Regions from separate parts of the Homo sapiens genome. Here region 1 is linked to region 2. Evidence: fine-mapped QTL for protein levels in blood plasma. A gene starts in region 2. The other region holds a variant in brackets. All regions are shown on one strand. Distances are between the middles of the regions.

Region 1 (4,379 bases), 13 kb after region 2:
AGGCCATAGCCCTGTGTGGGGCTGGGAGATGCAGGAGTTTGAGAAGTCACTGGAGTTCTTCCGTGCTGCTTGCAGTTTTGAGCGGCAGCCCTGTTCCCCCGGGACAGTCAGGACCGACCATCCCAGCCTCCGAAACACTCCTCCCTTCTTCACCTGTTCACCCACAGGCACCGTGGTCCCAGAGGCGAATCCCCATCTTCACTGCCAATTTGAAGGAACGTGGAGATGTCTCATCGTGGAAACGTTCCTCTCTTGGGTGCAAAACCCCTGTGTCGGCTTGGTGTGGTGGCTCACACCTGTAATCCCAGCACTTTGGGAGGCCAAGGAGGACGGATCACGAGGTCAAGAGATCGAGACCATCCTGGCCAACATGGTGAAAACCCCCCCACCCCGATACAAAAATTAGCTGGCGTGATGACACGCACCTGTAATCCCAGCTACTCAAGAGGCTGAGGCAGGAGAATTGCTTGAACCCGGGAGGTAGAGGTTGCAGTGAACCGAAATCATGCCACTGCACTCCAGCCTGGTGACAGAGCAAGACTCTGTCTCAAAAAAAACAAAACAAAACAAAAAACAAACAAAAAAACAGAACCCAGGTTTCAGGACTAGAAGCAGAACCTTTGCACTAGGTGATGGGCGCCCTGCTCAGGGCCCCATGGCTCACTGCTGTGCATTCTGAACAAGGAGAAATGCAGATGGGCTCCTTGAGCTGGTGCGTCCACAGGTGGAGGGCAGCATTTTCTTGTCTACAGGGAGGGAGGAAAGGATGATTTGGGGGACCTGGAGGCAGGGACTTCCGGGGCTGTCTCATCTGCCGCCCAGCACGTCCGCAGAGCCAGGCTCTTGCATTTTTCCCTTCACTGGCCTCCTGAGCCTGAGGTTTCATCCCAGCCTTCCTGTTTCGTGAGCCCTTGAATGTGTGATAGGTGACACATGTGACCATGAGCCCACGGCCTGACTGCAGCTCCTGAGTCACCTGCATGTCTGTGGGTGGCCAACAGGGTGGGAAAGGTGTTGAGTCAGTGAAGGGCTGGTGGCACTGAGGGCCGTGTAGGATGGGGGCATTCAGATCTAGAGTAAGTGTCGATTCCTGGGGAGCAAGCGGCTGCCTCCTCCGATGGAAGGGGTCGGCTGCAAGCCACGGCCTTCAGGAAGCCGGAGCTCCCCATGGGCATCGAGGCGCCGAGCGAAGGCCCAGGAGCGCCAGGTCCGCTCCCATCAGCCTTGGTGACATGGCAGTGGTGAGCCCGTGCAAAGCCTCCCTCCCCACAGGCCACCTCTCAGCAGAGGAGGCCCTGGAGGCTGTAGAGGTGCAGAGTGACACTCTGTGACACCTGTCCCCACACCCCGGGGTAGGCACCCCAGCATAGGACTGCAGTGGGGCCTTTCAGGGAACAGTCAGGGGACAGAAGCATCCTCATCTCTGTGGCCATCCCAAGACGCCGGTCCCTGCTCTCTTCCCAAAGCTCACGGCTACTCATTCTTCCATCCTCCTCCCTCCAGCCCTGGCATCTCTGATCAAACCCTGAGCTGCTTCCACAGGTCACGTGGCCAAGGCCGGCTTCCCTCCATCCACACGGAAACTGAGATTGGCCACTCCGGGTTCTGCCCAAAGCGAGGTCCCCTTTCTGCTGGGCAACAGGCCACTCCCACCTGGAATTAGCCCGCAGTGCAATCTGAAACAGGCTTGCGTTTCTCCCACCTCCGTCACCTCCGTCACCTCCGTCACCGGTATTAGGGAATGCACCATAAGGCCCTGGGGGAAGCCCCAGGTGCCCTGGGTGGAGGGTGGGGCAGCCTTGGCACAGATGAAAATCACCCATGTCTCCAGAGACTGCCCGCGCTCCTGAGGGCCACGTCCACCTGTGTCCTTCCAGCTCATGGAGGGCAGCTCATGACCCATGCTCGAATGTTTGGGCCAAAGCTGGTTGTGCTGGAAGGAGTGAATCTCCCTGCCAAAGAGGGCCCTGCTCAGCTCCAAACCGCTGGATGCTCCTGGGTGGTCCTCCCAGCGGGCCTGCCGCGGGCCCCTCACGCCCATCAGCATAGCTTCCTGCATCTCAAGCCCCACGTCCTGGCCTAACGGATCTTAAGGTCACAGGCAAGGCAGCTGCACCAGCAGACAGTGGCCTCGTGCTCTGACACCAGACTTGGGTCTCTAGTAAAGAGGCAGGAGCCACTCCCCAAGTAAGGCATGTGTCCCCTCAAAAGTCCACAGAGATCTAGCCAAGGTTGGGCCCGTTTCTAAGGCACCAAGGGGTACACACATAGGGCACCCACTGGGGTTCACTTTGGTCCAGTGTGATGACTGTAGCATCATGAGTTGGCAGGAAGCAGAACGAGACAGCCGGTGTACTCCTGAGGCAGGACACGTGTGTGTGCATGTGTGTGCACGCATGTGTGTGTGTGGACGCAGGAGAGACAGACCGAGATAGGGAGAGGGGGAGGGAGCTGCC[G/A]TCAGCCACTGCTGCATCCACGTGCGGGGTGTGCTCATTTACTCCAATCAGCCACATCTGAAACAGTGGCAGCGCCGTCTTCATCTGGTGTAACTCACGAGAAGCTACTCACCAAGTCCTCGGGACAGCTGCCGAACCCCTGCCCTGGAGCTCGGTCGCCGGGTTCACGGCCAAGAGCCTCTTTGGGGAAGGCCAGGAAGCGGATTCTTGGTACTGTAAGTCCTTGTCATTTTATTACAGGGTCCTTTCTGTAAGAGATTTGACCACCCTTCCTTCCAAGGGGCTCTGGGTGATCCAGGAAATGGGTGAGAGGCTACGACTCTGTCGTGATGGCACAAGGTGCCTCTGTTCACCAGATCTGGAGCTTTTCTTTCTTTCTTTCTTTCTTTTTTTTGAGGTGGAGTCTCACTCTGTCCCCCAGGCTGGAGTGCAGTGGCACAATCTCAGCTCACTGCAAGCTCCACCTCCTGGATTCAAGCGACTCTCCTGCCTCAGCTTCCCGAGTAGCTGGGACTACCAGCACGCACCACCACGCCCGGCTAATTTTTTGTATTTTTAGTAGAGACGGTGTTTCACCATGTTGACCAGGCTGGTTTTGAACTCCTGACCTCAGGTGATCCACCTGCCTCAGCCTCCCAGAGTGTTTGGGATTACAGGCATGAGCCACCGCGCCCATCCCGGATCTTGAGCTTTTCTAACACTACAGATCATGTGAGGGTTTTGCAAGCTCCCTGCCTGTTTTGGTCCTGTGCACCTCCACCTTATGGCCATCACGAAGCATTTCAATTGCAGCATCTCCAGAGGGCCTCTCTGACCTACACAGAGCAGCCGCAGGGAATTTTCTAGGAGACTGGTTCCTCCTTCCCTGCACATTTCCCTGGGCGGGCTTTTGGGGGAGGAGAGCTTCCTGGGTCTGTCCAGAGTCAAGGCCAGCAATTGACTGCACACGGCACACACTCCAGGGCACCTGGCTCCTCGATGCCTTGGATTCTTTTCTCTACAACACACTGAGGAATTCACGGGCCATCCGTGACTCCAGTTTTCAGTCAAGCAATTGAGAAGATAATTAGCACTGCTCCCAGCTGCTCAAGCTAGCGCACAAAGCCAGAATCTCTCATGCATGCACCTGTACTAGATATTTTTAGCTTCAGCTTCCTATCATGAAAGCCCAACATAGCAGGGACTCTATATGACATTTTTTGTTATTTTCTGACACATAAAAGGGAGAAGGCACCCTTTCTGGAGGTAGACTTCTTCCATTTGTACACCATTATTGTATGCCTGCCACCCTCAAGGCTACCCTCATGATCTACAATGGCTGCTGAGATTCCAGCCATCACTTCTGCCTTTCAGGCAGCAAGAAGAAGGTAGCAGAAAAGGACAAAACTTTTCTCAGTTGTCTATCCCGAGACTGAGCTCCTCTTTATTTTTATTTTTTTGAGACAGTGTCTCACTCTGTCACCCAGGCTGGAGTGCAATGGCGTGATCATAGTTCACTGCCGCCTTGACCTCCTGGGCTCAAGCGATCCTCCCACCTCAGCCTCCTGAGTAGCTGGGACCACAGGTATGTGCCACCATGCCCAGCTAATTTTTGAGTTTTTCTAGAGATGGGGTCTTGCTACTTTGCCCAGGCTGATCTCAAATGCCTCAGCTCAAGCAATCCTCCCGTATGGGCCTCCCAAAGTGCTGGGATTACAGGCGTGAGCCACAGCACCCTGCCTGCCAGTGAGATTTTTAAAAACCATTTTATTGGTATATTACACACACACATGTGGGAAGCGTAGAGCTTGGTTAATTGTTGTGTTACATGTAAACACTGCTGGCACCACCCCTCGGATAGAGATACCGAACCTTTCCCTCACCCCAGAAGGCTCTCTAGGTCAGAACCTCCACCATGGAACCACTAAATCTGATTTCTGTCGA
Region 2 (4,379 bases):
GAAACCCCTTCTCTACTAAAAATACAAAAATTAGCTGGGCGTGGTGGTGGGCGCACCTGTAATCCCAGCTACTCGGGAGGCCGAGGCAGGAGAATCACTTGGACCTGAGAGGCAGAGATTGCAGTGAGCCGAGATTGTTCCACTGCACTCCAGCCTGGGCAATGGAGGGAGACTGTGTCTTAAAAAAGAAGACAAAATAGAGGGAATTCTAGGAAAGGCAACCAGCAGTGGCAGAAGCTGAGAGGTGGTTGCTGGGAAGGGGCTGGGGGGAGGGGTGGCTGCAGAGGGGCATAAGAGAATTCTTAGGGGTGATTGAAACGCCCTAGGTAATGATTGTTGTCATGATACCATCGCTACACATTTGCCAAAACTTTGCACGTAAATTATATGCCAAGAAAGCCAATTTTTAAAAAGAAGGAAAGGATGGGTTTGAAACCCCAGTTCTTCCCCTACCAGCTGCACAACTTTAGCCGATTACGTCGCCTCACTGAGCCTCTGTTTTCTCATCTGTAACAGGGAATATAAGAGCAGCTGCTTCCCATCATGGCTGGAAGTATTAAATGCATTCATTTGTGGCAAGGCTTATAGTAATGCCTGGCGAAATCCATATTAGCTATTATAGGGAGCGTTCCTCAATTTGCGGAGAGGTTTGGGGTAGAGGCACAAAAGATGACCTTACAGGCCAGTTAACCATTCTCATCTCTGAAATGCCCCGCACTTTCCCTACCATGTCTTGGGAGCGGCTTCCTGATGACAGCAGTTCTGTCCACACGAATCTGAGGCTTTCACCCAGCTGTCTTCTCAGAGCCGAGCCGCTGCCCCTTCCCCTGCCTGTCCCCTGTCAGCGCTTCCCTCCACCCCATGGTCATCGCACACCGGAAAGGCCTTGCGAGCCCCAGGGGAGCAGATGTTGGTGCTCCGATTCCACGAGGAGGCCTCTGGGTTTTCCATTTTACCTGCCTGGATGGCTTAGGACTTTCCCGGACTCTGGGGCTAAAGATTCGGCACCTGAGTTTTAAAACCTTTCCCAGCACTTCCCAGAGATGCCCTCCCGTCCTCTGCACTCCTGTCCTTCCCTGGCCACTTGGGCAGAAGTCATTAGCACTGCTGAGAAGGGATGATGCTGGGGTTTCTGTGCACTCAGGCCCTTAATCCAGATGAGATTTTTTTAAACTCCCCACAGCCAGTTCTATTTCCAGCTGCACCTGCCCCTGGATCTTCACAGTTCCTCTGGAGGGGATTAGGCAAACCGTGCAGCTGCCTAAAACCTCACACCTTGAAGGAAATAGTCATTGAATGTCTGACCTCTGGGCTGGCTGTCTCGGACTCTAAGCTGCCAGGGAACCAGGGCCTTCCACCCAGTGGGACTGCCTGGGGGCTTTTAAATGCCCCTGCCTGTCCCCTACTCCCAGAGATGGTGACTTCCTGGGTCTAGGCATTAGGAGTTTGTAAAACTCCCTGATGATTCTTCTGTCCAGCCCAGGCTGAGAACCACTGGTCAGAGGCCTGGGCACATCCCAAGGCTCATCCAGAACCATGGGGTGCAAGTGACAGAAACAAGAGCGGCTGCTGATTGCCTCACTGAGCGGTGAAGCCCAGCCTTGACCATGGATTAGGCCAGCTGGACCCAGGAGCTCAGGCCGGAGGATGCCTGCTTCCCTCTGCTCTGCCCCACCGGCCCCAGCAGCCTGGGCCCACATCCTCTCAGTCAGAAGCTGGCTCTCACCGGCTGGCTGGGCTCACAGCCCCACCCTGAAACCAGCAGTGTGGCCCGGGGCCCCCGCAGGGCTCAGACAGCCAGGCCTTGGGTGGTTGAAGGCCAAGAGCTGGGGGCCCTCTGGGAACCACACAGCCGGGAATGGGAGGGGGTGCTCCCCAAGGGACAGTTGAGGTGCCGGCTTTCAGTGGGAGGAAAGGGAATGGGTATGAGCTGGACAGAGCCATTATGTCACCCAGAGAGGCTCTGTCCCCCGCCCCGCTGAGGGGGAGACAGTAGGAGAGTGGCCACAGGTCCAGCAGTGGCGAGCACAGGCTCTGGGGTCAGGTGTTGGAGCAGGGTCCAGCTCCTCCACTGGCCAGCTGCATACCTGGTTCTCAGTGCCTCCCTCCCCTGGGGACAGGGGACAGTGCCATGCAACCTTGTGGGGCACAGGCCCTCTGTGTGGTCAGCATGCCAAGAGCACAGAGAGGGTGGATTTGCACATAAGCAGCCCCCTGTGTGGTGTTCACCCAGCCAGCAACGTGCTAGACCCAGGAAAAGACTCGGAGCGCTCTGTCAGAGTCCACAGCCACACCACCAGGTGCAGACTGTCTGGGCCCAGAGCCTCTGCTTCTTCCCCTCCCGTCCACCAAACGCCAGCCCCTGACCAGCCTGGCGGCCTTTCCAACTGAGTGTGGCTGTTAGTCCTCTTGCAGGCCTTGCTCCAGCCAGACTCCCACCTTGGGCCTCTGCCAGCCTGGCACTGATAGCCACAGGCAGAGCTGAGACAAAAGAGAGGGGCCCTGGGGAGTATCAGCAGCAGCCAATCCCGGAAGACATCTATGTCAGGTGGTTTCTGGAAATCGAAAGTAGACTCTTTTCTGAAGCATTTCCTGGGATCAGCCTGACCACGCTCCATACTGGGAGAGGCTTCTGGGTCAAAGGACCAGTCTGCAGAGGGATCCTGTGGCTGGAAGCGAGGAGGCTCCACACGGCCGTTGCAGCTACCGCAGCCAGGTAAGCTCCTGCCTCTAGCTCTCAGGTGGGCACCCCTCTCAGTCTCTCTCTCTTTTTTATTTTTATTTTTTTTGAGACAGGGTCTCACTCTGTCACCCAGGCTGGAGTACAGTGATGCAATGTCCGCTCACTGCAGCCTCTGCCTCCTGGGTTCAAACGATTCTCCTGCCTCGGCCTCCCAAGTAGCTGGGATTACAGGCGCGTGCCACCACGCCCAGCTAATTTTTGTATTTTTAGTAGAGACAGGGTTTCGCCATCTTGGCCAGGCTGGTCTCAAACTCCTGACCTCTGGTGATCCACCCGCCTCGGCCTCCCAAAGTGTAGGGATTACAGGTGTGAGCCACCGCGCCCGGCCAGGGCACCCCTCTCTCTACACAGGCAAGTGGGGGTCATGCCTCCCTGTTTGCACATAGGCCTGGAGCTGGGGATCCAGGGCTCCTGAGTCCAGCAACAATCATTGCTGCTCCCAGGCCCACAGGGCCTCTGTGTACAGTTGGGCAGATTACTCACTGCACAAGGATACCAGCCAAAGGGCAAGTGGGTTAGAATTCAGCTTGGCCCTCTCTCAGACCTGTGCATTTGGCCTAGGCCTGCACCCACTCCAAGGAAGAGCACCTTTTTTTCTGATTTGCACGAAGGGGCCAACACAGGCAGCCGGGTCTCAACTGTATGAAGGAATCAGGCAAAAATAGCCGCTGCCACACAAAGGGCAGCGACGCCACCTGCCAGGTGCTTCGTTGCCCCCCCCCCTTTTTTTTTTGAGACAGAGTCTTGCTCTGTCACCCAGGCTGGAGTGCAGCGGCTCACTACAATCTCTGCCTGCCGGATTCAAGCAATTCTGTTGCCTCAGCCTCCTGAGTAGCTGGGACTACAGGTGCACACCACCATGCCCAGCTTATTATTATTATTATTTTGTATTTTTAGTAGAGCCGGGGTTTCACCATGTTGGCCAGGCTGGTCTTGAACTCCTGACCTCAAGTGATCCACCTGCCCCAGCCTCCCAAAGTTCTGGGATTACAGGCGTGAGCCATCGCGCCTGGCCAGTTGGCCATTTTTCCAAGGCCCTGAGTTACTCTCCCAGGACGGACAAACCTAGTGGCTGCAGCAGAGTGAAGTGGCTGGGGGCAGAAGTGGAGAGGGCGTCCACCCATACCGGCGTGCCTGGGACTGAGGGGTTTCCCAGGACACAGGGAAACTTCAGTGCTAAAACCAGCACAGTCCCCAGCACACAGGACAGGCGGTCACACCCTGGCCCCTTTAGCCATCTACTGACATTGACACAGGGAGGAGAGGTGGGCTCCCCCGAGCAGACCCCCTGCCTGTGGCTCACTGACTGTGGATGTGGAGCCCATTTGCCTCTCTGGGTGTCAGCTCATTCACTTGTAAGGTGAGGTGTAACTAAGGTGGTTCTCAGGGTCACGGTAAGGCCTCCAGTGGTGCCCGGGGAGCCCCGACAAGGGGTGGCTGCACAGTGCCAGCGAGCACGAGTCCCAGAGCAAAGCTGCTCACCAGCCAGTGCACCCAGCTCCCAGGGCGCTTGTTCATGCAGACTCCCATGCAGAGGGGCTAGGGCAAGGCCAGCCATGACTGCATTTCCGACAAGCTCTGGGGATGCCATTGCAGCCGTCCACCAGGCCCCCTCCAAGCAGCCTCAAGGTCACCA

Which allele goes with the higher level. Alleles are on the strand shown, and positions count from the first base shown. The strength of an association depends on the size of the effect and on how common the allele is.
With allele A in place of G in region 1, the plasma level of the protein whose gene starts at base 2,617 in region 2 is lower (moderate association).

The links. PIP is the posterior inclusion probability: the model's chance that the variant is causal. Protein levels are from antibody-based Olink assays in UK Biobank. Linkage for the fine-mapping came from a reference panel and not from the study's own genotypes, which makes the PIPs less certain.
Region 1: its variant is fine-mapped to the plasma level of the LGALS3BP protein (UK Biobank, PIP above 0.99).

What each region holds. Positions count from the first base shown.
Region 1 is chr17:78,964,757-78,969,135 of GRCh38, reverse strand. No RefSeq gene overlaps it. Among named protein-coding and RNA genes, the nearest start is that of LGALS3BP, 13 kb to the left of the region's middle. The variant G/A (reference allele first, on the strand shown) is at 2,457.
Region 2 is chr17:78,978,161-78,982,539 of GRCh38, reverse strand. LGALS3BP (galectin 3 binding protein) reads left to right here and starts at 2,617. Exons shown (of 6, transcript NM_005567.4): 1 at 2,617-2,716. RefSeq lists an enhancer at 1,591-2,583.